2 linked regions of the Homo sapiens genome follow. The gene in region 2 interacts genetically with the main gene of each other region. Each region holds a gene or a part of one and is shown on either strand. Other genes may lie near its edges.

Evidence for each region. Genes that interact genetically often act in the same process or in processes that back each other up.
Region 1: of ATG10 (region 2) and FTSJ3, changing one suppresses a phenotype caused by changing the other (phenotypic suppression), as found in Homo sapiens cells (one large-scale study listed by BioGRID).

The regions. Positions count from the first base shown.
Region 1 is NC_000017.11:63,818,933-63,821,798, reverse strand, and holds the end of FTSJ3 (pre-rRNA 2'-O-ribose RNA methyltransferase FTSJ3), read left to right. Parts: coding exon 1-76; intron 77-155; coding exon 156-445; intron 446-683; coding exon 684-769; intron 770-860; coding exon 861-960; intron 961-1,360; coding exon 1,361-1,544; intron 1,545-1,625; coding exon 1,626-1,720; intron 1,721-1,804; coding exon 1,805-1,997; 3' UTR 1,998-2,366; downstream 2,367-2,866.
Region 2 is NC_000005.10:81,974,722-81,978,745, forward strand, and holds part of ATG10 (ubiquitin-like-conjugating enzyme ATG10), read left to right. Parts: intron 1-1,471; exon of another isoform or gene 1,472-1,606; intron 1,607-3,607; exon of another isoform or gene 3,608-4,024. UniProt on the Homo sapiens protein: E2-like enzyme involved in autophagy. Acts as an E2-like enzyme that catalyzes the conjugation of ATG12 to ATG5. ATG12 conjugation to ATG5 is required for autophagy. Likely serves as an ATG5-recognition molecule. Not involved in ATG12 conjugation to ATG3.

The DNA of each region.
Region 1 (2,866 bases), on a different chromosome or scaffold from region 2:
GGAGAATCCACTGCTGGTACCACTGGAGGAAAAGGCAGTACTGCAGGAAGAACAAGCCAACCTGTGGTTCTCAAAGGTAAGGAGAGGCCGGGGGCAAGACTGCGGGGAGATGAGTCTTCCTTGGGAGAAGGGCAGCTGATGTTCTCCTATCACAGGGCAGCTTTGCTGGGATCGAGGACGATGCCGATGAGGCCCTGGAGATCAGTCAGGCCCAGCTGTTATTTGAGAACCGGCGGAAGGGACGGCAGCAGCAGCAGAAGCAGCAGCTGCCACAGACACCCCCTTCCTGTTTGAAGACTGAGATAATGTCTCCCCTGTACCAAGATGAAGCCCCTAAGGGAACAGAGGCTTCTTCGGGGACAGAAGCTGCCACTGGCCTTGAAGGGGAAGAAAAGGATGGCATCTCAGACAGTGATAGCAGTACTAGCAGTGAGGAAGAAGAGAGGTGAGTAGTTGCAGCTGAGAGAAGGGATGGAAAGGAAGCGGTGGCTTGAACCATTTCTCTAAATTGGGGGTTCTTAATCTTGGCTGCACATGGGGAGGGTTAAAAATACTGTACTGACGATCCTGATTTAACTGGTCTGGGGTACAGCCTGCATGGCAGGATTTTTGCAAATTCCGTGGGAGTGCGGTCTGAGTAGTACAGAGTGGTGGAATCACTCAGAGTCCTCCCCTCTTCACAGCTGGGAACCCCTCCGTGGTAAGAAGCGAAGCCGTGGGCCTAAGTCAGATGATGACGGGTTTGAGATAGTGCCTATTGAGGACCCAGGTGAGAGCTCTGTATGCAGTGGAATGAGAAAAGACCACTGGAAGTCTCAGTATTGGGAATTGAGCTTTGACCTTTCTCCTTCCCTCTCTAGCGAAACATCGGATACTGGACCCCGAAGGCCTTGCTCTAGGTGCTGTTATTGCCTCTTCCAAAAAGGCCAAGAGAGACCTCATAGATAACTCCTTCAACCGGTAAAGGGGCCATAAACTCATCAAGAGTGACCCAGGGTCTGGTGGGTAAATGGGTAATTTTTTGTTTTTGAGATGGAGTCTCGCTCTGTTGCCCAGGCTGGAGTGCAATGGCACGATCTTGGCTCACTGCAGCCTGATTCTCCTTGAATCGCTTGAGTCAGCCTTCTGAGTAGCTGGGATTACAGGTGCCAACCACCACGCCCAGCTAATTTTTGTATTTTTAGTAGAGATGGGGTTTCACCATGTTGGCCAGGCTGGTCAAACTCCTGACCTCAGGTGATCTGCCCACCTCAGCCTCCCAAAGTGCAGGGATTACAGGCGTGAGCCACCGTGCCCAGTCTGGTAATTTCTTTAGAAAGCCTGGAATGTTGGATATTAGACAGATGTCCTTTCCACTCAGGTACACATTTAATGAGGATGAGGGGGAGCTTCCGGAGTGGTTTGTGCAAGAGGAAAAGCAGCACCGGATACGACAGTTGCCTGTTGGTAAGAAGGAGGTGGAGCATTACCGGAAACGCTGGCGGGAAATCAATGCACGTCCCATCAAGAAGGTGGCTGAGGCTAAGGCTAGAAAGAAAAGGAGGGTAAGTGATGGGGCCTCCAGAGATTGGGTGGGGTGGGGGTGGGGGGATGGGGAAGAGGTCACCTGACAGGTTCCTTTGCAGATGCTGAAGAGGCTGGAGCAGACCAGGAAGAAGGCAGAAGCCGTGGTGAACACAGTGGACATCTCAGAACGAGAGAAAGTGGCACAGCTGCGAAGGTAATGGGAGGACACCACAAAGGTACACAGGGCTAAAAGTGCAGCAGAAAGCAAGCCTCTAACCTCTTCTCTTCCCCCCTGTAGTCTCTACAAGAAGGCTGGGCTTGGCAAGGAGAAACGCCATGTCACCTACGTTGTAGCCAAAAAAGGTGTGGGCCGCAAAGTGCGCCGGCCAGCTGGAGTCAGAGGTCATTTCAAGGTGGTGGACTCAAGGATGAAGAAGGACCAAAGAGCACAGCAACGTAAGGAACAAAAGAAAAAACACAAACGGAAGTAAGCAGAGCTGCCAGGCTCCCAGGAGAGCATGGGGACTAGGAGGAAGGGTGTGGCATGGCTCAGTCTGGCCCCCTTGATTACCGGCCTAGCCCCTGCTCACATCACAGCTGTCTGAAGAACAGTGAGGTGGAGTGCCTAGAACTCCCGTGGTGGTCCTGAGCAGAGAGGAGGATGTCCTCCTGCCTGCCTGAAGGTCTCCCATGAAAACACTGCTGAACTGTGTTGACACTCATGACCCTTTTTTTAAACCGTTAAAGGGAAGTTCGGTGTTGGAGCGATACTCAATGTAGTCAGTCTACACCTGGACGTGTGGGCCACTTAAGCCCTCCCCACCCCCATCCTATTCCTGAATAAAACCAGGATAATGGAAGAGTTGTCTTTTCTGACAGTTTTAATAAGCACTTCCCTATCTGTCCCTACACTGTGTGCGGCACTATTCTTAATATGTACCAATTCATAGACAGAAATGACAAACGATCCACAGGTCCCGGTAGTAAAACATTTACTAGAGAGCAAGCAGAAAGGAATGCACATCTTAAAGAAACCTTCACAAAGTCACAAAAGTCAAAGTTTGTATATTTCTTTTCCTTTTTATAAACGATAAACAAAAATCATCAAAATCATTTCAGCAAAAGACTTTTCTATCATTGGGGCAAGTTAAAAAAAATACAATGAGATAGAAGACACTTTAAAAGCTGTTGTTGGGTTTCTTGTTTAATTTTAAATTTAGCAATACCATCTCAAACCTGGAGCAATCCTGGAACAGTTACCAGGATCACCTTTTCCCTTCAATCCTTGTGGCTTCTGGGAATCTTCAGAGCCTGGGTCTGAAAGGTGTTTCCTACATGTCTCAGGGCTGGATGCAAACCT
Region 2 (4,024 bases):
CCTCCTGCCTCAGCCTCCTGAGTAGTGAGGACTAAAGGCGAGAGCTATGTCTCCAAGCTTCCTTTGAGTTTTAAGACTGTAAACTTCCTGCACCCTGTCCCCAGATTCTCAATATCCCTCAATCTATACTCTCCATTCAGGTTCTTTACTGGTCTACCTCATTTCAATCTGTTCCAAGGTTCACTGCCACTGCCCCATCCCTTCTATTTCTTTCTTTCTATATCCTCCTATAATTCAAGGATTAACTGAAATCTAACTACTGTAGGGCCCAGGCTCTGGTTCCAGACTTCCTTAGGTCAAATTACTACACTTAACAGCTGTGTTACCTTGGACAAGTTACCCTCTCTGTCTCAATTTCCTTATCTATAAAATAAAGAAAATCCTAGTAATTTACCTCAAAAAGTTGCTCTGAGGATTTGTTACTAGTTCTTAATACATAGTAATATATGCAATTTTAATTATTTTAATCCATACTAATTCTTTAAACAGTGGTTGTACAATTTATCACTGTTTTTTGTTATCCATTATTCTCTGATGTTCTTTTCAATGTGAATCTTTACTTAAAAATTTGATTACTTTGAGAAGAATGTGTATTCTGAAAAATAAAAAAATATTTGGTTACAAACTATTGAAGGCAAAGACTGTATTATACTTCTTTTTGAAAGTCTCTTAAACCAAGGCTGGGTACAGTGGTTCATGCCTGTGATTCAGCACTTTGGGAGGCTGAGGCAGGCAAATTGCCTGAGCTGAGGAGTTTGAGACCAGCCTTGGCAACATTGCAAAACCCTGTCTCTACAAAAAATACAAAAAATTAGCTGTGCATGGTGGTGCACACATGTGGTCCCAGCTACTCAAGAGGCTGAGGCGGGAGGATTGCTTGAGCCTGGCAGGTGGAGGTTGCAGTCAGCTGAGATGGTATCACTGCCCTCCAACCTGGGTGACATAGTGAGACCCCCCTCTCAAAAAAAAAAAGTGTCTCAGACCTCTCAGGATGATTTGGGGGCTCAGTGTAATATTTTTTTCTTCCCATCTTACTATCTAGTTTTCTTTTTCTTTTTTGTTTTTTATTGTACTTTTGTAGCTTAGAGTTTTAAATTTAAACTCAATTTTGTTCCAAAAGTATTTGAGGTAGCTTAAACTATATAATATATAATAACATACAAAATAAAGAGAATCAAGATCATAAAAATATGAAGCTTGAATAGAAAGATGTGATTAGGGTGAGTTATACTGAAAATATACTGTGAATGTTGTAGAGTTATTTATTTATTTATTTATTTTATCTTTTTTTTTTTTTGAGATGGAGTCTCACTCTGTCGCCCAGGCTGGAGTGCAGTGGCGTGATCTCGGCTCACTGCAGGCTCCGGCCCCCGAGTTCACGCCATTCTCCTGCCTCAGCCTCCCGAGTAGCTGGGAGTACAGGCGCCCGCCACCTTGCCCGGCTAATTTTTTTTTTTTTTTGTATTTTTAGTAGAGACGGGGTTTCACCGTGTTAGCCAAGATGGTCTCGATCTCCTGACCTCGTGATCCGCCCGCCTCGGCCTCCCAAAGTGCTGGGATTACAGGCGTGAGCCACTGCGCCCGGCCTGTTGTACAGTTATTAAAGGTAGGCCACAAAGTTCCAAGCTTCATGGTGGTCAAAGGAAAGAAGGAAACATATTTATTGCCCAGCAAAAACAGCTTCCTGTGTTAAAATAATTAATTGGGAGGCCATTGCCTGAGGAAGCTCCAGTGCCCTGGGTTCCTACATAAACAGACTTACACCAAACTCAGTGTAAATGGTTGTATTCTAGGAAAATGAAACTTTAGCTTAACCAATCAGAAACCATCAACTAACCTCTAACCACTGACTTTTACTGGAATGATCCAAGTAAGGCTACTCCACTTTGACCAATCACAGATTTTCTTGGCCTTGCTTCTGCCGTTCACTCTTCAAAAGCCTTCTAACTGTGTCCTTTTGGTGCAGCCCCATATTGCTTGCATTCTGGAGCTGACCAATTCATTAATATGCCTAGTGTTCCATTATTGGAACGCTAAGCTTGTGGGAGTTATTTATATCCTGCTCATGGTCATCGCCAAGGTCTGATTTTTCACAAAAAAAATTTGCAACCTCCAGCATAAATGGGTTAACCATTGTCTGCTTAAATAAACATTTTCTTGTTTTTGTTTTTTGAGACAGTATCTTGTTGTGTCGCCCAGGCTGGAGGGCAGTAGTGCAGTTATGGCTCACTGCAGCCTCAATTTCCTGGGCTCCAGCTATCCTCCCACCTCAGCCTCCCAAGTAGCTGGGACTACAGGCATGCACCACTATGCCAGGCTAATTTTTGTATTTTTTTGTAGAGGCGGGATCTCACCATTTGCCCAGGCTGGTCTTGAATTCCTGAGCTCAGGCAATCCACCTGCCTTGTCCTCCCGAAGTGCTAGGATTACTTTGCCTGACCTCAAATAAATCCTTTAAAATTTTAATGTGCCTTGGTTTATCTTTTAGCACCTAGTAAATATTTAGTGAGTGAAATGGAGATTGTGATCACAGATTTTAAAGGATACGCTGAGGCCCTAGAGTTAAATTCTCTAGACTTTGTTAATTCCTTACCTACTTCCCAGTATTTCTCAAAGGGAGCTCTACTGGCATTTTTACAGACAACTCTTCACTGTGTGGGATTGTCCTGTACATTGTAGGATGTTTATTTTACCTGGTCCCTCAGCACTAAATGGCAATGGCAAACTCTAACTTCTTTTTAACAATCCAATATGATCCCATTTATTTCCAAGCAGCCCCTTGAAGAGCGGGTTCCCCATAAAGTTGGGAACCATTAGACCTTATTTGCCCATACTCTTCTCCACCCGAGCTATGCTCCATCCACTGACATTTGTTTTATTTTTAAACCTTGCATTCTTTTCAGACCCTGTCTTTGCAGGAGCTCCTCAATCTTTTTGGAGTGACTTTGTCTCCACCTGGTTGGCCCTTACTCAAATTTCAAAATTCATTTCTTCAAGAATTGAATTCATGTGTTCAGAACTCCAAGTTTTGGAGTCTTCCCCAGTTTTGCCAGGAAGTTTGACATTCTTTTCTAGGAGGACACTCACAGCAAGCACTAGGGTATTGTAGGTACTGAGTGAATGAATGAAAAACTTGTGGAAATAGAAGGCACATTAGTCTCATCTCTGAACAAAGACTTTTGCAAGAAGAAAAATTTAAAGGGAATGTGCCTTTCATTACAAAAATGTCCAACCATTTCCTTTTTTTATTTTCCAAAATAAAAATATGGCACTTGGTAGTATATTTTAAAGACACTTTGCTCTGTAATCTGTATTCAGACTGGCACTGATTCTGTAGCTTCTGATATTGTGTTGGTCTTTTTTTTTGAGGCGGAGTCTTGCTCTGTCGCCCAAGCTGGAGTGCAATGGCATGATCTCAGCTCATTGCAACCTCTGCCTCCCAGGTTCATGCAATTCTCCTGCCTCAGCCTCCCAAGTAGCTGGGATTACATGTGCCCGCCACCACGCCCAGCTAATTTTAGTATTTTTAGTAGAGATGGGGTTTCACCATGTTGGTCAGGCTGGTCTCAAACTCCTGACCTCAGGTGATCCATCCACCTTGGCCTCCCAAAATGCTGGGATTACAGGCATGAGCCACTGCTCCTTTCTGTCTCTTCTTATTTTTTGGATACTTTTGGCCAAGGATACCCCATTATCTCCTTATTTCCTAATTCTGGATACTTGGCATATGTGCTGACTAGAGTTTGTTGTACTAGTCCTACTACCCACTGTTCAAAGGCAGCAAGAGAGTTTGAGCTGTGGATCAGCTCAAATTGTCATCAGTGGTGGAACATTTTTTCTTATGTGCTTGCAGAGTTTTATTAAAAAATTATCTTTTGATAAAAGTAATGATACTGGTATCAGAAAGATTGGATGTCATATAGATCTGTGGTTTTTTTTGTTGTTGTTTGTTTGTTTTAGAGACAGGATCTTGCTGTCTCCCAGGCTAAAGGGCAGTGTCACGGTCATAGCTCACTGCAACCTT